Linked DNA regions of Homo sapiens. Each later gene encodes a partner of the first gene's protein in a complex. Links are inferred from orthologs where the notes say so. Each region holds a gene or a part of one and is shown on either strand. Other genes may lie near its edges. The genes, in order: GINS3, MCM3, GINS2 and GINS1. A codon is read from its position in the direction of its gene.

Region 1 (4,235 bases):
GATAGCAATTTGGTATTTGAGCCCATTTGTTGTGTTTTTTGAAAAATTAACCTCTTGAAGGGACCAAATCAAAATCTAAACGACTAACTGGAGGGCTGCTGGGGAGAGGGGAAGTCCGACAGGCTTGAAGGCAGATCTGTAATTGAAAATGAGTTCAAAAGCTACATGTAATATAATCTGTTCAAAATGTAAAATAGGGGCTAAGTTTTGGACATGAATACCTACATATTCCTGACACATGGCCCCTGAGGAATTTCTTTTTTTTAGGAAGTAGGAAAAAATGGCAGCAGACTTAGAGTTGACTTTAAATATAAAGCTATGTGTGAAAAGAATGATGCCAAAAGTTAAATAATATGCTTTTCTCGCTCTATGAATGGTTTCTCGGGCCCTGGCTATATATAAATGCTGCGGTAGTAATGGAAATCTCATCTTCCTAGGACACAGCACCCTCCTACAGAGAATGTACCTCCTATTTATGTGTACCACACAAGCAAAAGAGCAGCTGCTAAAACATGGATTTGTGTATTACCGTCAAATATGATCAAAGACACAATTCTGATAGCTTTGATTATCTGTAGTACTAGTGAAAGAGCACTTGTACAGAACATATTCATGTACAAAGCCAATCATTTATTTAGCACTAAAATCAAATTATAAAAACAACAATTCCATCTTAAAACAGGCATTTTAAAAGCATTTCTGTGGTTCTAAGTTTGCATCAAGACAGCCTAAGTTTGCATCTGCACAATCTGGATACCCAAATCCCTCTATAATTTCCAAAGACAAAGACAATTTTTGCTAGTTGTGAGGTGTCAGGGGGAAGCAGTGATGCCCTGCAAACAGTCTAATGGGCCCAGGGAACCCTGTTTCTTTCTCAACCTGAGGTTGCATCCTTGATCTCCAGGAAAAGAGATTAGTGCTTGCTTAACCAGGTTCCTAGTAAATGGTCAGGGATCTTCTATGCAATAATGTTGCAAAAGTTACTGAAGAGGAAAAAAAAAGCACAACGGAGGCTTCTTGCCCATTTACACTTGCAATGTTAGATTTTGAAAACAGGGCCCTTCATAGTCAGCACCCAAGTCCTGACTTCCAGATGTAATGCAGGCTGGTTAACAGCCCTTAATAACTACATTGCAATTCCAAACGACTCCCTGACAGCTTTTCTAGACAGGGAGTAGAATTAAGTGTGCGGGTGCTCTTAGGCTCTCCGAGGCAATAACAAGCTCAGTTTAACCATTTCCCTTCTGGGTTGACTGCTGAGTTATGCAGATTCCAGTTCATTAAGCCCTGAGTATAGAGTATGAGGCCAACATCTTTTCTTTAGTAAAAGCCATGCCATTCGTCTGCCTTTCCCTTTTCCTCCTTTATCTGGGCGACTGTTTTTGGAAACTGGGGTAACTCCCTGCAGGCAGGCAGCAGGAGATATCTCCAAGTCAGGCTGGCATGGTGGGGTGCTATCCTCTGTACAACCATGAGGAAGATGAGGCAAATAAGATCAAGAGAGCATTTTGTGAACAGGCGATGACCCAGTTTGTACCTGTGCTTTGTGGCTAGTGAAACTGTACATCTGAAGCTGTCCAAACTCCCAGACACAAGGAATCTCAGTTGCAACTCTACTGTGATATATTATATGGCAGTGATTCTTATTTAGGAAGGACTTTGATTTCTCCTTGGCCATGGGTTCTTGGGTTAAAGGGCCTGGGCTGTGGGTCAGCAGGGTGGGACGGTCCTGGAAGACTCACAGAGCCAGGGACACCCACATCCTCCAGCATGTCCAGTTCCCTATAATTCTCTATGGCCACAGGAAATAAGCCATGAAATGGGACAGGATTCTGGTTCTGTACAAGGTCAACCAGCTCCTATCAAGGACACACGGAGGGATACGTCTGTGAGGAGCCATTCTGTGTTCTTCCGGCTTTCAGTCTTCCATATCAGTGAATTTTCTCTTCTTGTAATTCTGAACGAGGTTGGAAGCTGTGATCTGAGAAGCCTGCCCCTTCTCCCAACACTGAAAGTCATTCAGTCCTTTCTGCCCTGTTTGAAATAAGCCCCTCTCCATCTCGTCTAGCCTGGCTACCAGGGCTGAAGTGTCTTCGTTGTAAGCATTCTGTGAGGAGTCCATGATGCGGCGAAAACGTCCGATAAAAGTCTGGGAAACAAGGGAGTAAGACAAGTCAGGGTTGACCTCACACCCCACAAAGTCATATCCATTTTTATCTCAGAACATTTAAATGGCATGAAAAGAAAGAATGATGTGTAGGACTCAGAAGGAGGTCTGAATTCCCTCTAGCACCCAAGTAAGTTATTGCACATTGCCATGCCTCAATTTCCTCATCTGTGAAGTGGATTGTTATGAAAATCCAGTAAGTTGTTAAGAAAACCAATGAATACATGTAATGCACCTAGCAAATGGCTAGCACACAGCAAGCTCCTTGAGAAGCATCACCTATTATTGTCATTAGTAGCAAATGCTTCTGTCCCAAGAGGAAGAAATGATGGTTTCTTCTAACAGTAACAGAATAAAAAAGTAATTATGAAAAATTAAAATAAGGTTATACCATAAAGGTTGGGAACAGATGTATAACATTGTTTTGTCCTGGAAAAGTAATAACAATATGAGTTATTGTTTATTACACGGCATTACATAGTTTTACCACAACTCTATAATTTTGGCACTATTATCATCTCCATCAATTCTTACAGGTGAATTGATGTCTAGAGAGGTCAAGTAGCTTGACCAAGTCATATTGCTAGTTCATGGCAGGGCCAAGCCCTAACCCCAGAACAAAGGAAGGAAACAACCCAATAACTCTTGTATTTCCAACAGGAACCCTTAGGCCAGGCCTGGGACTGTGTATCTAAGTGCCTGTCACCTGTAATGCACCATAGCCCTTTTTTTCTCTTTTTTCTTTTTAATAGAGATGGGATCTCACTATGTTGCCCAGGTTGGTCTTGAACTCCTGGGCTCAGCGATCCTCCTGCCTTGGCCTCCCAAAGTGCTGGGATTACAGGTGTGAGCCACCATGCCTGGCCATCATCACCCTTTTCTCATTTCCTAGAGTTCCTGCTGGCCTCAACTTGTAGCAAGCAAATATGAGGAGTGGCAGACAAGTCATATTAAAAAAATGTGTGTGTGTGTGTGTGTGTGTGTGTATATATGTAAATATATAAAATGGACAGACAGTGTAACTGTAGGCTGACCTGGAATAAAAACAGACTAAATTTACAAGTCATACACTGTCCTGGGTAAAAGTAGTATCTGTGGCTGGCTCTTGAGACAAGTGCAGCACCACAGGTTTTCACACCCATTACTTGCCTGCAGCAGAGACTGGGAAATGTCTGCATTCTCGGGACTGTCAAAATGCAGGAGCTGGGAGCCAAACCCGTAGAAATGGGGCCCCATTTTGTGGAGGTCCACCACATTGGGATCTGCACTGAACACAGTCCTCCAACCCTCTTGGTAGATCTTGGGGAGTTCCACAGAAAGGATCCGTCGCTTGTTGTCAAAAAGTCCTTTTGCCAGCCACAAGGGTAGTTCAAGCTTGGAACCCTGCAGCATGCATGAATGTAGATTTTAAAAACAGACAAGTAACACAGCAAATGTGTGTGACGAAAAGGAAATACACATCGCCTGCGCAATACTGCCTTTTCTCTTTGGGGGAGTGGCTGTCAAGCACAGAAGACCTGGTCGTGACTCGAAGCAATGAAGTGTGTGGGCTGAAGTTTTATGTGATGATGGAATGGAGAGAGAAAATGGATTTATACAACAAAAACATGGTGAACAAAAATGTAGCATAAGTGAGAGTTTTCTAACTAACACATAAAAATTGTCCAATTGTAGACACTTCAGAGCTATAGTAAACATTTCCTTTTTCTTTGAATATTCAATATTTATTCTAAATATCCACTTGCCGAGTGCCTGCTATGTACTGAGCACCCTATTGGATGCTAGGGGTCAGAAAGAAAAATAAGATCAACCTGAGCTTGAGTGGCAGCCCCTTTCCATCCCACTTCACAGCTTCAGAGATGACAGCACACATGTCTCTAGTTTTTAAAGCCTCAATAGAATTAGAAAACAAGATGAGGTGGTCATGACAGACCAGAAATTAAGAGTCATAAATCTCCAAAAAAATCAAAGGCAAACAACTGGATTGAATGAAGCAGTAAGAGCCAAAACTCTCACAAGGGAGAACTGTTGCAAAAAGATGGGAGCAGCTTTGTGGGTGTGGAAGCAG
Region 2 (7,070 bases), on another chromosome or scaffold:
AATAAGAATTGTGAAGCCAGGTGGCGTAGCACATGCCTGCAATCCCAACTACTTGGGAGGATCACTTGAGCCCCGGAGTTTGCAAATTTAGTGCACCATGACTGCACCTGCAAATACCCACTGCACTCCAACTTAGGCAACATAGGAGAACCTCATCTTTAAAAATAAATAAATAAATAAATAAGAATTGTGGGCTTTTCATATTAAACTCTGGCCTGCAATCAATCTTTCCTTTGGATTAATCCTTATTTTTCACCCTTTACAGAAAAAAGACTTCAGATATTACACAATTCCTTGCCTTAAAACAGGTATCTTTGATTCCAACCTCCAAGACAGCTCAACTGATTTATCCCCCTTACCTTGGTAGGATAGACAGAGCTGGAGGGAAAGGCCACCAGGGTGGTGAGATCAGAATAACGTCGCTCTATGGTCTTCTTAGTAGCAGGACAGTAGTGGACACTGCGGACGACTTTGGGACGAACTAGAGAACCTAGGGATGGAAAATGTGCATATATAAACTCACCCAACTAGACGATGATACAGGTGGAACCCAAACATATGCAAGCCTATAATGACTCCAAATACTGTGTTTTTTTGACTAGGTTACGATATTTCAATATTACCTTTTATTCACTTTTTTATTTATATATAGACCACCACCATATCCATGTAAAATTTTAAGTACCACCAATCCCAACTAATAAATAGGTGGAGTTAGAGGTTGGAATTAGAGATTGCCAGGAACCAAGACTCCTCCAGCTCTCAGCAGAATTCATCATTCTACTAATACATGTGATTACTCAAGGTCCCCCAATCATTGTACACACTGAGCCCTCCAAGTTTTACCACGTAATTCCAATGCTCCACCTCTTTGAAGCCACAAGCTACCCAGATCTACTTTGCCTCTCCTGCTTTCCCCATCTCCCTGTCTATTCATTTCCTAAGCGGCCCCCTTTAACCCACTTACATTTAGTGACAATGCCCTCCACACAGACCACACAGCTGAGGAAGCAGGAGGTAAGAGTCCGCGGGGAGACGTGCTTGGAGCCAAAGCTGCCTTCCAGTCCTACGTAGAACTCCTCATACTGCTTGGCATAGGTAGCATCAATGGAGGCCACAAAATCCTTTAAGGCCCGCTGGAAGGCAACCAGCTCCTCAAAGGCATTGTTCAGAAGCCTGTACATAAGCAAGAGAAAGAAAAATTAGACTGGGCAGAACTCAAAAAAATGGATCCTCAAAACAGCAGACATTCTTAGATCATTAAAAACAATGAGAAAATCCAGCTTCTGCTTTCTCCTATAAGTCTCAGTAAAACACCATCCTATAAGACTCAGTAAAATACCAGAACTAAGGACCAACTTCACCTCAACTTATCAAAGATATAAAAATGATATTCAGCTAAACATTGGAAGGAGGGGCATTTGGGAGGAAAATGCCAACCACCCACTTTTTGAAAAAAAAAAAAAAAAAAATAGGTGCAGGTGAGCTACGAGGGCTTGTAGATCAATCCTGTTTCATACAAGTCCTCTCCTGAGAGGCTGTTCCAATCTGGCCAAGAGGGAAGGGAGCCATTCTCACTGACAGCCAGTATATCCCCTTGCCTCTCACCGGTTAGCCCTCTTCTCGTTTTTCCTGCGCAGGTCATTCACATTGACAATCAGCCGGTATTGGTTGTCACTGATCAGCTCCCGAACTTTGCTCTGATAAATTCCCTGGTCTTCCTGCAAAACAGCCACCACATATCACCATAGCCACAAATTTAAAAACAATGTTTCTAAACAGAAGTAGTTCTCATAGCCAGATAGCTAAGTCAATCTCTGCAGCAGAGCTGAATCCCCAGTAAGTATGTGCTCATCAATTTCTCCCTTTCATTCACTGTTTTTAGATTCGAAATAACACCCTAAGAGGGGACTATAAGAATTATAATGACTTCCTCAAGGTCCATGCTGTTATTCCCATCATCATGGACAACTTTTCTGCATGCTGTAATTTCTGTCTTTAGTGGAGAATTAAAATGAGCTCATGAGAAGTCTAAATGGACAGTAAGTGCAAACTTTGTTAAAATGTTAAGTTAAACCTAGCAATGTGAATGTTAAAGGTAACAACGTGAATAGATGGATATGTTGTTTCACTGTAGTAATCATTTCACCATGTATATCAAAACATGTGCACTTCAAATATATACAATAAAAATGTAAATAAAACAGACTCTTAATAGTCACATTAAAATGGCTTTTCATTTAAGAATTATGTAAAAAGTAATATTTTTTCCAATCATCTCTATAATACGGAAAGGGTTCTCATACCCCGACCTAAAGGAATAGAGAATCTCAGCTATTTGGTCACATCATCAACCCTTCAAGATGGTTTTTTCAACATTCTATGGCTTTAAGTCTTGGGTTGCACATAAAATCCCCTTGGCCTGCACACAAAACACTTTTTATCTGCATCTTAGTTGGTATTGAAAAAGAATGCAGCCGAATTATGGAGTCTTTTCCTCCAGGTAAAACGTCAGTCCCTAAAATCTGAGCACTCTGCAACGCGGCTGGTCACTATAGCCCTAGGGCAGCCCCTCCCCCACAGTCTCCTCAAATCAAGAGAGAGCAGTGAAATGCAAAAGGCCGAGGTGGGCTTTGCCAATCTGCTTGCACTTAATGGGAACCTGTCGCCTTTTGCGCGCCCGGACCATCGCTTGTACTTAAGAGAAAGCTGGCTTCCTAAGAGTTCACTTATCGAACACAAACTAGCGAGTCCGGCGTTGAGAAGTTACAAGATTGGGGCTGGAGGCTCGGGCCCGGCAGGCTCCGCTGCGGCACACGGTCTGGAGGTCTGGCGGGCCTCTGGCTTCCCGGCCGGGCCGCGTCCGCAGGGGCTCCGAGCGCTAGAGCCCGCGCGCCGGCGCCTCCCTCACCTCGTCGTCCAGGAAGTCCAGGTAATCTCTCTGAGCCTCCCGCAGCTCCACATCGTCCAGCACCACGGTACCCGCCATGCCCGCTGCCAAAGAACTACCTCCACCAAAGTCGCGTGGAGGTTCCCAGGATGACTCCACCCCGGCGCGAAAACTTCCGAACTCTTCCCGCCACCAAAGGTTACCTCGAGGAAGAGGCGGGGACCTTGGGAGCATATAAGCATTATGATTGGCTGAGTTCTCTGAGGTCGGACTAGCGACTGTCCAATCAAAAGCTTCTTCTTCTTCGGGTTTTCCGCTGCGCGCCCCGCGGTGGCGGGAAACGTACCATCCGGGATTCTCTGTTCCTCCCCTCCCTCCGCCTCACTCACTGACGAGCAAACTGACCAATAGGGCTGAGAGGAGGCTCACAGAGGCTGGTCATTGAGCAGCTGGAGGGGACAGGCTGGCGAGAGGGAAAGCATTGCGTTCTGGGAGTTGTAGTGTTCTCCCTCCTTTCCGGATGTTTTTGCAGGGTTTTTCAAGCTGCAGAACTTTTGACCCGATGCAACGACCAAATTCAGAGGATGGTGCTTTATAACGCAGGGAGATGAAAACATAAAAGCAAATCATTTTTAAGATATATCCAAATCAGAACTGCCCTCCAGTGGCATCCTAGTGTAAAAGTGGATTTTGAGAATCTATAGGATAGAATATAGAACTACAGTACCTTAGGGAAAGATTAGTTAAAAACCCATTTGCTATCTGATACCGTTGCCTGACGAACTCCATAAAGACATCGCCGCAGAGAAGGATGAAGTGAAAAAAAAAATCTGTGTTTACCCTGCCCCCTAGAGACTTCATCGTGTGTTATACAAATTTTGGAAACCGTTACTACTCCATCTTACTTAATAACAGGTAAATTAAAGGCTTTCTGGTCTTATAAAAAGATCACAAGATCCTTTTAAGTAACTTAGCTTACTGAACGATCAGCTCAAGAGGGGAAAAAGTGTTTCACGTCACTTTGATTAAATATCAATCAGTAACTAACAGCAAATCTGAAACCATAATGACTAAAAGATCATCGCACGTCCAAATTTGTATGTTTGTTTTCAGTCCGTCGTGGTTGGCTTTTTCTTATATTTCTAGTTTTATTTTGAGATATAATGTATATACAGTAAAATGCACAAATCTTAAGTGTACAGCTCAGTGAATTTTTACCTGTGCTTACACCCATGTAACCACTCTGCACAATAAAGAGCAAGCCCATTGCCCCAGCATGTGTTTTTAATTTTACTGAACAAGAAGCTGAAATACTGGATTGCCCAACATCAGACATTTGATAATTCTTTATCTGAAATTTCAGCCAACTATTAGCTTATGTTTTAAAGTCTTCAGGACTCACTATGTACTGATAAATATTCTAAGAATAATCTGCCTAAACAAAATATATAGGCCATCTATTTGTGTGGGTATATGTATTTCTAGTTATTATTCAGTTTATAGTTACTGTATGTTTTGTGCCATCCTAGTGGGCAGATAAATCGATCCTTAGCCAAAGCAAAAAGGCTGTCATTTGACTGCTTGCTTTTATGTTTATTAACGGGCAAAAAAAAAAGAAAATTCTAGAATAAAGATACTGTTTGCCGTTATATAGCAAGAGGTAATTACTGATTTATTAAGACTTTTTACTCATAACTCTTATTTTATGAACTTATTGGACAGAGTACTGAGATATCCTCTGCTCTGGAAACAATTTGAAATTAACACTAAAAGAACCGGGAAGCTTAGTTCAAACTAGCAAAGAAGTCGAGTCATTTGTAGTAGAAAGTCCAAAAGAGTGGAAATCTGAAAACCACATCTTTGATTCTCACACTTTTTTCTGGGCTTGTTTCCTTATATACAGTATAAGATGAAGAAACTGAATTAGAATATCTCTGATAATCTGTCTTACTCTAACATTCCATGAGCTAATGGCAAATTTGGAAACTATGTAAAGACAATTCTATTTAATGAATTAATCATGCCATGGTCTTTGATAAAGACTTGATTTGTCCCAATATAATCATCTTCAGCTGTGAAGGACACACCGCTATTTAATTGGTGTTTCTCCCTTCTTTCATTAGGGCATGAAATCTTTAAGCAGAGGAAATGTATTTCCTTTGTTATCCCCGACACCTGCAAACTGCCCAAAATCAATCAGGTTGTTGCTACAGAAAAATTAGGGGCATTTGTACATATCTCATAAAAAGTCCAGCTGAGCTTAGCCCGTAGTCCTCCTCTATCCTGATTCAAAATTAAAAAGCACATATAATCTAATAAAGTAGTGTATCTACAGTTTCCATACTTGGGTCACATTCCTGCTTTCCTCCATTTCAATTTTCTTTCCACCCTAGACTTTAATGGACTCAAGCCCATCTCCAAGGCTGCCTAAACGCTAGGGGGCTCCCTGGAGAGCAGAGTATACAGGAAGAGAATGGAAAGAAAACAAGATTGCAAAGAGATTGCAAAATAGATGTAATACTGCCATTTTTCTATGTCCTCAGGGTCCAAAAAATACCCAAAGACACAATACAAATCCATAATAAATATTATTACAAGAAATTATATATACCTTTGTTCAAACTAATGAACATTATATGTTGCAAAACATTTCAAATAATACCCTGTAATTAATAACTTGTTTAGGCACTCAGGAAAGTGCCATAATTCATTAGCAGTCCTTTGACATTTACTCAAAGGCCACCAAAGCTTGGAGGTGAGCAAATCTATGCCTCCAGGTGTCACAGCAGCTCAAGGAATAATCTGTAGGCACAGGCTTGCCCTAACCTCACAGTTCTGCAGTGTGAAGTCAGAATCTTCAGATGCTGTAGCATCTAGAGTTTCAAGCACCAAGACAGGCAGATTTGGTTACTCTTTCTGGCTGCTCTGTATATTACCTGCACGACTAGGCAACTTACTTAACCACTCTGTGCCTCAGTTTCTTCACCTTTCAAATTAGGTTAGTAGTATCTAACTCAAATGTTTAAGTATCCAGTGAAGTCATAACAGATGTAAACTACTGAAAAAAGTGCCTGGTATGTAGTAAGCATTAAATAAATGTTAACCATTGGTAGTGGTGGTGAATGGTAGTTGGAGAGGAGTCAAGGGATAGGAGAAGGGGAGGAAGCACTGTAGTGCATTCTGAAACAATTCAGACAACCAAATTCAAACCCCCTTCCCACTTCCACCAAAAAACTTACAATACAACCAACCCAGACACTTCCTTGAGTGGGACCTTTTTCTGCTGGAAGTCCAATTGGCTAAAAAAAATAACATAGGCAGGGTGTTGTTTGGCTCGGATTCCGACAGTGTTGGAAGCCATCAGATGCATTTACTCCATGCTCAAAGAACATTATGGAATACTAAATGGACTCCTTTATAAAACTCTTTTAAAAGAGTCTGGTCAGCCGGCACAGTGGCTCACACCAGTAATCCTAGCAATTTGTGAGGCCGAGGCAAGTGGATCACCTGAGGTCAGGAGTTCAAGACCAGCCTGGCCAACATAGTGAAACCCCGTCTCTACCAAAAATACAAAAAAATTAGCTAGGCATGGTGGCCGGCACCTATAATCCCAGCTACTTGGAAGACTGAGGCAGGATAATCGCTTGAACCCAGGAGGCGGAGGTTGCAATAAGCCAAGATCACGCCATTGCACTCCAGCCTGGGTGACAAAAGTGAAACTCTGTCTCAAAAAATAAATAAATAAACGAGTCTGATCACCTTTCTTGTCTCCCTTTTGCACTCTTCTGTTGCTTCCTGGAGTCCTTCCGGTTAGATATGCTAAAAAGAGCCGGAAAATCCAGGAGCCAGACAGAGAACATCAGTGATCATGATTTTCCCATTAAATATAACAACACAGTTGGCTTGCCAACAATTAGTGATTCATTGGTATTTGCCAAGGTTAATTTCAGTAATCTGATTTCTTAGTCCGTAAGAAGTCATCCCCATTCTTTTTCTTTCTGAGAGATAGGTTCACTATGCTGCCCAGAATGGTCTTAAACTCCTGGCCTCAAGTGATCCTACCACCTTGGCGTGAGCCACCATGCCCAGCCCCCATTCTTTTTTTTTTTTTTTTGACGAAGTCTCGCTCTGTCGCCCAGACTGGAGTGCAGTGTGCAATCTCGGCTCACTGCCACCTCTA
Region 3 (3,257 bases), about 27 Mb from region 1:
GGCTTCTGACTTAGAGCTGATTCTCTACTAATTTTCTTAGGTAAACAGCAGTCCTGTTCAGCAGCCTGCCATGGGATAGTTAATGTGAGCAAAAGAAACTCCATGTGGATCACTGCCGCACCAAGCTTAACTGCTACAAATCTTTACACCCTAAAGTTGAAAATAAAGCAAAACAGACTTTCTGAGTCTGGAATAGCCACGGTATTTTGCCTGAAAAGAGCCACTCTATCCAGCATTGCCTCAGGTTATCAAGTGTTCCCCGACTGACTTTAGCCCTTGCTCCTTTAGTGCTTCAGACAACATCCCGAAGGCAGACGAAATCCGGACCCTGGTCAAGGATATGTGGGACACTCGTATAGCCAAACTCCGAGTGTCTGCTGACAGCTTTGTGAGACAGCAGGAGGCACATGCCAAGGTAGGTGCCGCCTTGCCTGGGTGCTGGTGGCCTTGATGCCGCATAATTTCACATGGCTCCCGTCTGCTGAGGCTATTACAGGCAGGCATTACTAGCTGTGCTTTTCAACAGTTCATTGGTTTCTTATTTTTATTCAGTAGAGTTTACCTTTTTCTCAAAATCAAAAACTCCTTGGCCAACTTGGTCTGTTTTCTTGCTTTAGCTGGATAACTTGACCTTGATGGAGATCAACACCAGCGGGACTTTCCTCACACAAGCGCTCAACCACATGTACAAACTCCGCACGAACCTCCAGCCTCTGGAGAGTACTCAGTCTCAGGACTTCTAGAGAAAGGCCTGGTGCAGGCGGCTTGCTGGGGGATGTGAGCGCTCAGGACGTGATGAGGTACTCGTGGTTCTGGAGCTCTAGAAACACTTCTGATGCATGAAAAATGTGTGATGGTGCAAGGAATGGATTCAGGATGTTGTTGGAGAAACAAGTTTGTGATTAGTCCTTAAAACTTAGCTCCCTGGGACATTCTTCAATTCCACATCTGTTTCTAGAAACCAGCCCTTTTTCCCCCCACTTTTGAGAAATAAAAAAGCCTTAGGTAAATAAGTCATTCTCCCTAGCAGAGCCACTTGGGTCTCCTGCATGGAAGCCATCACACTTGGGCAGGTGTTCAGTGACTGGTAGGTGTAGATACAGCAGGAGTGGCCATGTGGTCCACGGCTTTTTACCCCTTCTTGATCCTGATTTCTTGGGCTGAATTTAGACTCTCTCACAGAGGTGGCTCACAGAGAAGGATGGCAGATGGTGCAGCCAACAATGCTGACCGGTGCTTATCCTCTAAGCCCTGATCCACAATAAAAATGGACCCAACTCAGCTCTGACTCTCTAGGTTTTTGTGCTGCGTAACTACCAAGTAAAAGGACTGAGCCTGTGGCTGAGATGACTCAGTCAACGAAACTGAGGCACACGGCAGTTAAGTGGAAACTGCAGACCAACACCTGGGGTGTCTCCTTCTCTTGGCTACTTCTAGCTCAGGTTTAATGGGTTGCTTATCAAGAGGAGAGTCAGGAAAAAAACGAATCCAATGTATTGAGCATGAGTGACAATGTATTGAGCATGAGTGACAATGCTAGAAGAAAAGTCACTTTCAGTGCTGCTCTTGATGGATTTGGGGAAGGATTCTTTGTTGTAGGTAACAGTGGGCTCAGGGGAAATTATTTTTTTCCTAAGAGAAAATTACTTTATTCGTAGCATTTTGGAAATGTTAGGACCTTTACAGAAATTACATTACCTTGAGAGGTGAAATGATCGTCCAGCATCATGCAATGGATAGAAGGTTCTGTAATCAGCTTTAAAAAAAACTTTAATTTTTGGCCGGGCACATTGGCTTGGCTCATGCATGTAATCCCAGCACTTTGGGAGGCCAAGGCAGGTGGATCACAAGGCCAGGAGATTGAGACTATCCTGGCTAACATGGTGAAACCCCGTCTCTATTAAAAATACAAAAAAAAAAAAATTTGCCAGGTGTGGTGGCACACGCCTATAGTCGCAGCTACTCGGGAGGCTGAGGCAGGAGAATCGCTTGAACCCGAGAGGCGGAGGTTGTAGTGAGCCAAGATTGCACCACTGTACTCCTGCCTGGGCAACGAGAGCAAGACTCTGTCTCAAACAAAAAAAATTTTAACTTTTTTTTTAGACAGGGTCTCGTTCTGTCATCCAGGCTGCAGTAGAGTGGCGTGATTATAGCTCACTGCAGCCTCGAACTCCTGGGTTCACACAGTTCTCCCACCACAGCCTCCCAAAGCACTGGGATTGCAAGCATGAGCCGCCATGCCTGGCCAGCCTATTTTTGGCTGGACACCAGTGGGCCAAAAGCAGTGGGGTGCTGTCTGGGGAGCTCTGAGAATGCGCATGTGTGACAGGCTGAGCCTAAAGACTTATCACCCAGCATCTGCCCTCCAGTGTCTAGCATGCTGCACACTATCACTCCATGTTGCTGCCCACGTGTCCCCGCCAGGCAGGTTTTGGTGGTTATTTGGACACTGAAGGGTCAGACCTGGAAGACTGGGACCAAAAGATGAGGTCTCCATAATTTAAGGTGCTGTTCAGACTTGGTTCAGCTCATAGGACTTGTTCTTTCATCTCAGCCTTCCTTGGAATCCTCCTGCTTTCATCTGGGGATCTTTTAGAATGAAACCACTTGTTATTGTGGAGGGCAAGGGGTCCTAATGCCCTCCTCTTAGAGCCTGAGCCAGTGGAGGCAGCTCCGTCTGCGGAGATGTATAGTTATTGAGCTTTTCTTTGTTTGGCTTTGTTTTATATCATAAAAAAGATTTTCCTCTTAACATAATTTAGGAAGATTTTATTTTTTGGATGTTGTCAGAAATTACAGCAATATATTCATAAATACCTAATTACTACATTCAACAAATAATATTACAATACAATTAATTCAAACAAGTACACTTAGAACAGGTTTAATTTCACAGCATCTAAACTGCCCCCAGAGTGACCGAGGCACCGGTGTTCCTCCCTCCCACCTGCGTATGGGGTTTACTGTTATAGAATTAAGCACAGGGTACATACAAAATAACACCAGTTAGCATGGTCTTCCTCAGGTCAAGGCAGAGTTAAGGAGTTTTTTAGGTTAAGCACTGGATGGAAAAGTTGGGGACAGGCTACTGCAAGTAGTAAGAAAGTCAACAGCTTGGTTACTTGAAAGAATATAGAGATTGCTAAGTGGCTAATATACACTTTAAAGAGGAACAGAATCGGTTTGTGCTGACCATCTCCATCTTGTGGTGGATCCCTGGCATTTTCTACACTTGTGTGAAACATGTGGCTCAGGGA
Region 4 (7,058 bases), on another chromosome or scaffold:
TGGTGGCGCACCCCTACAGTCCCAGCTACTCGGGAGGCTGAGGCATGGGAATCACTTGAACCCTGGAGGCGGAGGATGAAGTGAGCTGAGATTGTGACACTGCACTACAGCCTGGGTAACAGAGTGAGATCCTGTCTCAAAAAAAAAAAAAGAAAAAAGAAAAAAGGAAAAAGAAAAAGAAAAAGAAAAAAGAAACAAAAACAAAAACGAAAGAAGACAAATTTCAAGCCAACCACCTAACTTTACATCTTAAGGAACCAGAAAAAGAAAAGCAAGCTAAACCTAAAGCTAGAAGGAGGAAATAATGATTAGAGCAGACATTAATAAAATGAAGAACAGAAACACTCATAGAGAAAACCAATAAAACTAAAATTTGGTTATTTTAAAAGGTCAACAAAATTTACAAACCTTTAGCTAGACAGACTAAGAATAAAAGAAGGCTCAAATTACTAAAATCAAAAATGAAAGTGAGGACATTACTACCAATCCTACAGAAATAAAAAGAGTTCTAAGAGTCCTATGAACAATTGTACACCAACAAATTGGAAAACCTAGATGAAATGGACAAATTCCCAGAAACACAAACCTACAAAGACTGAATGATTAAGAACTAGTAAATTGGAATAGACCTATAGCTAGTAAGGGGACTCAATCACTAATCAAAAATCTCTCAATAAAGAAAACCCTAGAGCTGATGGCTTCACTGGGTAACTCTATCAAACATTTCAAGAACACCAATCCTTCTCAAACTTTTCTAAAAAATATAAAAGGAGGGAACACCTCCCTAACTCATTTTATGAGGCCAGCATTACCCTAATACCAAAGCCAGAAAAGATACTCCAAGAAAACTATAGACCAATGTCCCTTATGAACACTGATGCAAAAATTCTCAACACAGGCCAGGCATGGTGGCTCACGCCTGTAATCCCAGCACTTTGGGAGGCCAAGGCGGGAGGATCACCTGAGGTCGGGAGTTCGAGACCAGCCTGACCAACATGGAGAAACCCCATCTCTACTAAAAACACAAAATTAGCCGGGTGTGGTGGCACATGCCTGTAATCGCAGCTACTTGGGAGGCTGAGGCAGGAGAATCGCTTGAACCCAGGAGGCAGAGGTTGCGGTGAGTCAAGATCGTGCCATTGCACTCCAGCCTGGGCAACCAGACCAAAACTCCGTCTTGAAAAATAAAAATTAAAAAAATTATCACCACAATAGTATCAAATCAAATTCAGCAGCATAGTAAAAGAGTTCATCATAAATCAATTGAGATTTATTTTTGGAATGCAAGGACAGTTCAAGATATGAAAATCAATCAATATAAGTCATTAACAGAACGAAGGGAAAAAAACATGATCATTTCAATTGATACAGAAAAAGCGTTTGACAAAATTCAACTTCCTTTCATAAAAATACTCAACAAACTAGGAACAGAAGATAACTATACATCAACATAATAAAAGCCATATATGGAAACTCTACAGCAAACATCATATTCAATGGTGAAAGACTGAAAGCTGGCCAGGCACGGTGGCTCACGCCTATAATCCCAGCACTTTGGGAGGCCAAGGCGGGTGGATGATGAGGTCAGGAGTTCAAAACCAGCCTGGCCTCTATGGTAAAACCCTGTCTCTAATAAAAATACAAAAATTAGCTGGGCGTGATGGCATGTGCCTGTAGTCCTAGCTACTTAGGAGGCTGTGGCAGGAGAATCGCTTGAACCTAGGAGGCGGACGTTGAAGTGAGCTGAGATTGTGCCACTGCACTCCAACCTGGGCAACAGAGCAAGACTCTGTCTCAAAAAGAAAAAGAAAGACTGAAAGCTTTTCCTCTAAGTTCACTAAGAAGGCAAAAGATTTCTGCTTTTGCCACTTCTATTCAACATAAAACTGGAGTTACAGTCAGAGTAATTAGACAAGAAAAAGAAATAGGATTCTAAATTAAAAAGGAAAAACTAAAATTATCTGTTTGCAGATGATATGATCTTACATGTAGAAAATTTTAATGATTCCACAAAAAACTTTTAGAACTAATAAATGAATTCAGCACAGTAACAGGATGCAAAGTCAACACACAAAAATCAGTTGCATTTCTATACACTAACAACGAACAATCTGAAAATAAAAATTATGAAAATAATTCAGTTTATCAGTGCGAAAAGAATAAAATATATAGAAATTAAATTAACGAAAGAGGAGAAAGATTTGAACAATGAAAACTAAAAAACACTGCTGAAGAAAATTAAAGATGACATCAACAATTGGAAACACATCCCATGTTCATGGATTGGAAGATTTAATATTAAGATGTCAATGCACCCTAAGTGACCTACACAATCCCTACTATAATCCCAAAAGTGTCTTTTGGAGAAACAGAAAAACCCATCCCACAATCCATATAAAATCTCAAATAGTGAAAACAACCTTTAAAAAGAGGAATGGGGCCGGGCGTGGTGGCTCATGCCTGTAATCCGGCACTCTGGGAGGCTGAGGTGGGCGGATCACCTGAGGTCAGGAGTTCGAGACCAGCCTAGCCAACATGGTGAAACCCCATCTCTACTAAAACTATAAAAAATTAGCCGGGCATGGTGGTAGGCGCCTTTAGTCTCAGCTACTTGGGAGGCTGAGAAAGGAGAATCACTTGAACCCAGGAGGTGGAGGTTGCAGTGAGCCAAGAGTGCACCACTGTACTCCAGCCTGGGCGACAGAGCAAGACTTCGTTTCAAAAAAAAAAAAAAAAAAAAAAAAAAAAAAAAAAAAAGAGAGAGGAATGAAGGTGGAGGACCCAAAATCCCTAATTTAAACTTACTGCAAAGCTACAACAATCGAAATACTACAGTTCTGGCATAAAGACAGATGTATATATATATTAAAAAAACTTTTTTTACGACAGATGTACAGAACAATGGAATAGGATAAAGAGATAAAAAATAAACCCTTGCCTACATAGTCAAATGATTTTTGACAAGAGTGTCAAAACCATTCACAATGGGGAAAGGGCAGTCTTATTAAGAAATTATGCTTGGAGGCCGGGTGCGGTGGCTCACACCTGTAATCCCAGCACTTTGGGAGGCCGAGGTGGGCGGATCACAAGGTTAGGAGATCCAGACCATCCTGGCTAACACGGTGAAACCCCGTCTCTACTAAAAAATACAAAAAATTAGCTGGGCGTCGTGGTGGGCACCTGTGGTCCCAGCTACTCGGGAGGCTGAGGCAGGAGAATGGCGTGAACCCAGGAGGCAGAGCTTGCAGTGAGCCGAGATTGTGCCACTGCACTCCAGCCTGGGCGACAGACAGAGACTCTGTCTCAAAAAAAAAAAAAAAAAAAAAAAAGAAATTATGCTTGGAAAGCTAGATTTCCACATGCAAAAAAATAAAGTTGGACCATCACCTAACACCATACAAAAATTAACTTGAAATGGATCAAAGACCGAAATGCAAATGTAAAACAACATAATACTTAGAAGGAAATACAGGTCAAAAGTTTTATGACATTGTATTTAGCAATGATTTCTGGGATATGACTCCTAAGGCACAACCAACAAAACAAAAAAAATTGGCCGGGTGCGATGGCTCACGCCTGTAATCCCTGCACTTTGGGAGGCCAAGGTGGGTGGATCACCTGAAGTCAGGATTTCAAGACCAGCCTGGCCAACATGATGAAACCCTATCTCTGCTAACAATACAAAAAATTAGCTGGGTGTGGTGGTGCATGCCTGTAATCCCAGCTACTCAGGAGGCTGAGGCAGGAGAATCGCTTGAACCCAGGAAGCAGGGGTTGCAGTGAGCCGAGATCACACCACTGCATTCTAGCCTGGGCAACAAGAGCAAAATTCCATCTCAAAAAAAAAAAAAAAAAAATGACGAACTGGGCTGCATGAAAATTTTAAAATATCAACATGATACTGAAGGAAGAAAACAGAAAAAAAAGAAAAAAAAAGACACTATCAACAGCATAAAAAGGCAACCCAGAGAATGGGAGAAAATATTTGCAAATCATATATCTGATAACAAATTAACATACTGAATACATAAAGGATTTCTAAATCTCCACAACAACAAAACCCTATTTGAAAATGGGCCCCATAAAGGGGGCCAATTATTTGAATAAACATTTCTCCAAAGAAGACACAGGAATAGCTAATAAGCATATGAAAAGATGCTCAACATCACTAATCATTAGGGAAATAAAAGTCAAAACCACGTTTTACATCCTTTAGGATGGCTATGATTAAAAAACAGAACAAGGCCAGGCATGGTGACTCATGCCTTTGGGAGGCTGAGGCGGGAGGATCACCTGAGGTCAGGAGTTCAAGACCAGCCTGGCCAAAATGGTGAAACCGTGTCTCTACTAAAAATACAAAAATTAGCCAGGTGTGGTGGTGGGCACCTGTAATCCCAGCTACTTGGGAGGCTGAGGCAGGAGAATCACTTGAACCTGGGAGGTGGAGGTTGCAGTTGAGGTGAACCTGGGAGGTGGAGGTTGCAGGTTGAGCCGAGATCGCGCCACTGCATCCAGCCTGGGTGACAAGAGCAAAACTCTGTCTCAAAAACGAAACAAAATAACCCCAAAATATTTAGTGTTGGTGAGGATGTGGAGAAAATGGAACCCTTGCGTAATGTTGGAATGTAAAATGGTATGGCTGCTGTGGAAAGCAGTATGACAATTCCTCAAACATAGTATTACCATATGATCTAGTAATTCCACTCTGGATATATGCCCCCCAAAATTAAAAGCAGAGTCTCAAAGAGATTTATATATCCACGTTCATAGCAGCATTGATCATAAAATGATAGCTAAAATAAAGAAGCAACCCAGTGTCCATAGATGGATAAATGGATAAGCAAAATGTGGTATAGCCAGAAAAAGGAATATTACTCATCCTTAAAAAGGAAGGAAATTCTGGGCCAGGCGCAGTGGCTCACACCTGTAATCGCAGCACTTTGGGAGGCCGAGGAGGGAGGATCACCTGAGCTCGGGAGTTCGAGACCAGCCTGACCAACATGGAGAAACCCAGTCTCTACTAAAGATACAAAATTAGCCAGGGGTGGTGGCACATGCCTGTAATCCCAGCTGTTTGGGAGGCTGAGGCCAGAGAATCACTTGAACCCAGGAGGCGGAGGTTGCGGTGAGCCAAGATCGCACCACTAGACTCCAGCCTGGGCAACAAGAGTGAAACTCCATCTCAAAAAAAAGAAAAAAAAAATTGTGCAATGGTGCAATCTCAGCTCACCGCAACCTCCTTCTCCCCGGTTCTAGCGATTATCCTGCCTCAGCCTCCCAAGTAGCTGGGATTACAGGCATGTGCCCGGCTAATTTTGTATTTTTAGTAGAGACGGGGTTTCTCCATGTTGGTCAGGCTAGTCTTGAACTCCCGACCTCAGGTGATCCTCCTTCCTCAGCCTCCCAAAGCGCTAGGATTACAAGCATGAGCCACCGTGCCCAGCCGGAAATTCTGACACAAATTCTTACCACAGATACCACAGAAATGAACCCTGAAGATATTACGCTAAGTGAAATAAGCCAGTCACAAAAAGACAAATAACTTGTCATTTGTAGCTTCTCAGAAATTATTCTCTAACGAGAACAAAAGAAAACAAAAAGACAAATACTATATGATTCCACTCACATGAGGTAGTTACAGTAGTCAAAATCAGAGACAGACAGTAGAATGGTGGTTGCTGGGGGATGGGAGGCAGGGGTATTGAGAAGTTATTGTTTAATGGGTAGAGTTTCAGTTTTATAAGATGAAAAAAATCTGGATATGGAATGGTGGTGACAGCTGCAAAACAATATGAAAGTTGCAAAACAATATGGAATGTTAAACAATATTTAATACCACTTAAATGTACATTTAAAAATAGCTAAGATGGTAGATTTTATATGTATTTTATTATTTAAAAAATAGAAAAAATAAACAAAATGAAACAAAAATACCTCTTGTTTTGACTAATCCACCAACTTGAAAGACATTTGCTTTTTTTACTTTCAAAATTTAGCATTGATTTTCCATTTTGATTTAACTTTGTTTTGACATTTGTTTCATTTTACTTTCAAAATTTAGGGACTGATTTTCCATTTTGATTTAACTTTGTTTTGACATTTGTTTCATTTTACTTTCAAAATTTAGGGACTGATTTTCCATTTTGATTTAACTTTGTTTTAGTAATAGCTAAAACATTTATAGGGTTCCATACTCAAAACTATTAAAACAGGTATATTCAGAAAATTATAGCTGTTCCATCGTATTCTGTCATCCCCCTACAGGTAGCTTGTTTGATTTGGTCTATGCTTCTTTTCTATTTTAATAGAAGCTAACACATATTCATATACTCCTCTCTTCTTAAAAGGTAGCACAATTTACACATTAAAGAAAAATGCATTTTAAAAAGATATACATACTTCAATATATAGGCTTTTTGGTGGTTTCATATCCTGTGTAATGTCCAAACCTTCATCTCCTCCCAGTGACCTCATATAAGTAGCAAGAGATCTTTTATAATTATTAAACCACTCCATCTGCAAACATAGAGATGATCATTTGACAAAATTCTAAGAAAACTTGCACACACTGAATATCATCCATTCGAAAACAGTACACATCCCAACACAAATCACTGTTGTGACCATTCATTCATTAATGCTAAAATATTAATTGCCTCCTATGATATAGGCATTGGTCTGGGTACTTACAATGAATCATTCAATAAAGTGAACAAAAATCTCTGTTCTCAGAGAGCTTACATTTCAGCATACTTAATAATAAACCTTAGGAATCTTTGACCAGAAACAGAACCATGAAAAAGACGCCATTTCAGAATTATATCTTCAAACTCTGCATTGATGCTATTTCTGAAAACTATAAAACATTGTTAAGAAAACCCAAATGTCCACCAGCTGATGAATGGATATGTGCCCATATGATGGAACATTATTTAACCATAAGTAACAATGAAGTTCTGAAACGTATTGCCATTACCACATGAAAGACAGAAGGCCACATATTGCATGATTCTACTCATATGAAAAACCTGTAATAGGTAAATCTATAGAGACAGAAA

Evidence for each region.
Region 2: GINS3 (region 1) and MCM3 share a complex: the UniProt entries of both Homo sapiens proteins name them as parts of the CMG helicase complex.
Region 3: the proteins of GINS3 (region 1) and GINS2 are in contact, whole or in part, in a crystal structure (PDB 2E9X), measured with the Homo sapiens proteins. Residues at the interface, in NP_073607.2 of Homo sapiens: Leu13, Gly14, Tyr117 (codon at 3,388), Ser121 (codon at 3,376), Leu124 (codon at 3,367), Asn131 (codon at 3,346), Ala132 (codon at 3,343), Ser135 (codon at 3,334), Gln136 (codon at 3,331), Leu138 (codon at 3,325), Leu139 (codon at 3,322), Gln140 (codon at 3,319), Phe142 (codon at 2,146), Ile143 (codon at 2,143), Phe146 (codon at 2,134), Arg147 (codon at 2,131), Ile149 (codon at 2,125), Met150 (codon at 2,122), Asp151 (codon at 2,119), Ser153 (codon at 2,113), Gln154 (codon at 2,110), Ala156 (codon at 2,104), Met171 (codon at 2,059), Gly174 (codon at 2,050), Leu175 (codon at 2,047), Thr178 (codon at 2,038), Gly179 (codon at 2,035), Gly182 (codon at 2,026), Leu183 (codon at 2,023), Asp185 (codon at 2,017); in NP_057179.1 of Homo sapiens: Asp2, Ala3, Ala4, Glu7, Met93, Glu94, Lys97, Asn101, Trp121 (codon at 344), Ile125 (codon at 356), Arg129 (codon at 368), Val130 (codon at 371), Ala132 (codon at 377), Asp133 (codon at 380), Val136 (codon at 389), Arg137 (codon at 392), Gln139 (codon at 398), Met151 (codon at 636), Thr155 (codon at 648), Ser156 (codon at 651), Thr158 (codon at 657), Phe159 (codon at 660), Leu160 (codon at 663), Gln162 (codon at 669), Ala163 (codon at 672), His166 (codon at 681), Met167 (codon at 684), Lys169 (codon at 690), Leu170 (codon at 693), Arg171 (codon at 696).
Region 4: the proteins of GINS3 (region 1) and GINS1 are in contact, whole or in part, in a cryo-EM structure (PDB 8Q6O), measured with the Xenopus laevis proteins. The link is inferred for Homo sapiens from one-to-one orthologs. Residues at the interface, in NP_001080618.1 of Xenopus laevis: Trp2, Pro4, Tyr5, Met6, Pro7, Val8, Glu16, Asn17, Phe18, Leu19, Ser20, Leu21, Glu22, Asp23, Leu24, Leu25, Ser27, Gln28, Ser37, Phe39, Pro40, Arg41, Leu42, Phe44, Leu45, Pro63, Trp65, Leu66, Gly69, Leu70; in NP_001085502.1 of Xenopus laevis: Met1, Phe2, Cys3, Glu4, Ile7, Ile10, Arg11, Leu13, Gln14, Ser17, Asp18, Gly19, Gln20, Leu21, Glu49, Arg55, Asp57, Leu58, Pro60, Thr61, Lys63, Phe64, Arg65, Cys67, Cys68, Arg71, Arg74, Cys75, Val77, Ala78.

Annotation. Positions count from the first base shown.
Region 1 is NC_000016.10:58,402,413-58,406,647, reverse strand, and holds the end of GINS3 (DNA replication complex GINS protein PSF3), read right to left. Parts: intron 3,551-4,235; coding exon 3,317-3,550; intron 2,150-3,316; coding exon 1,919-2,149; 3' UTR 501-1,918; downstream 1-500. UniProt on the Homo sapiens protein: Required for correct functioning of the GINS complex, a complex that plays an essential role in the initiation of DNA replication, and progression of DNA replication forks.
Region 2 is NC_000006.12:52,281,686-52,288,755, forward strand, and holds the start of MCM3 (DNA replication licensing factor MCM3), read right to left. Parts: upstream 3,058-7,070; 5' UTR 2,990-3,057; coding exon 2,912-2,989; intron 1,722-2,911; coding exon 1,609-1,721; intron 1,177-1,608; coding exon 968-1,176; intron 491-967; coding exon 360-490; intron 1-359. UniProt on the Homo sapiens protein: Acts as a component of the MCM2-7 complex (MCM complex) which is the replicative helicase essential for 'once per cell cycle' DNA replication initiation and elongation in eukaryotic cells.
Region 3 is NC_000016.10:85,675,698-85,678,954, reverse strand, and holds the end of GINS2 (DNA replication complex GINS protein PSF2), read left to right. Parts: intron 1-288; coding exon 289-415; intron 416-617; coding exon 618-743; 3' UTR 744-2,757; downstream 2,758-3,257. UniProt on the Homo sapiens protein: Required for correct functioning of the GINS complex, a complex that plays an essential role in the initiation of DNA replication, and progression of DNA replication forks.
Region 4 is NC_000020.11:25,424,669-25,431,726, reverse strand, and holds part of GINS1 (DNA replication complex GINS protein PSF1), read right to left. Parts: intron 6,517-7,058; coding exon 6,400-6,516; intron 1-6,399. UniProt on the Homo sapiens protein: Required for correct functioning of the GINS complex, a complex that plays an essential role in the initiation of DNA replication, and progression of DNA replication forks.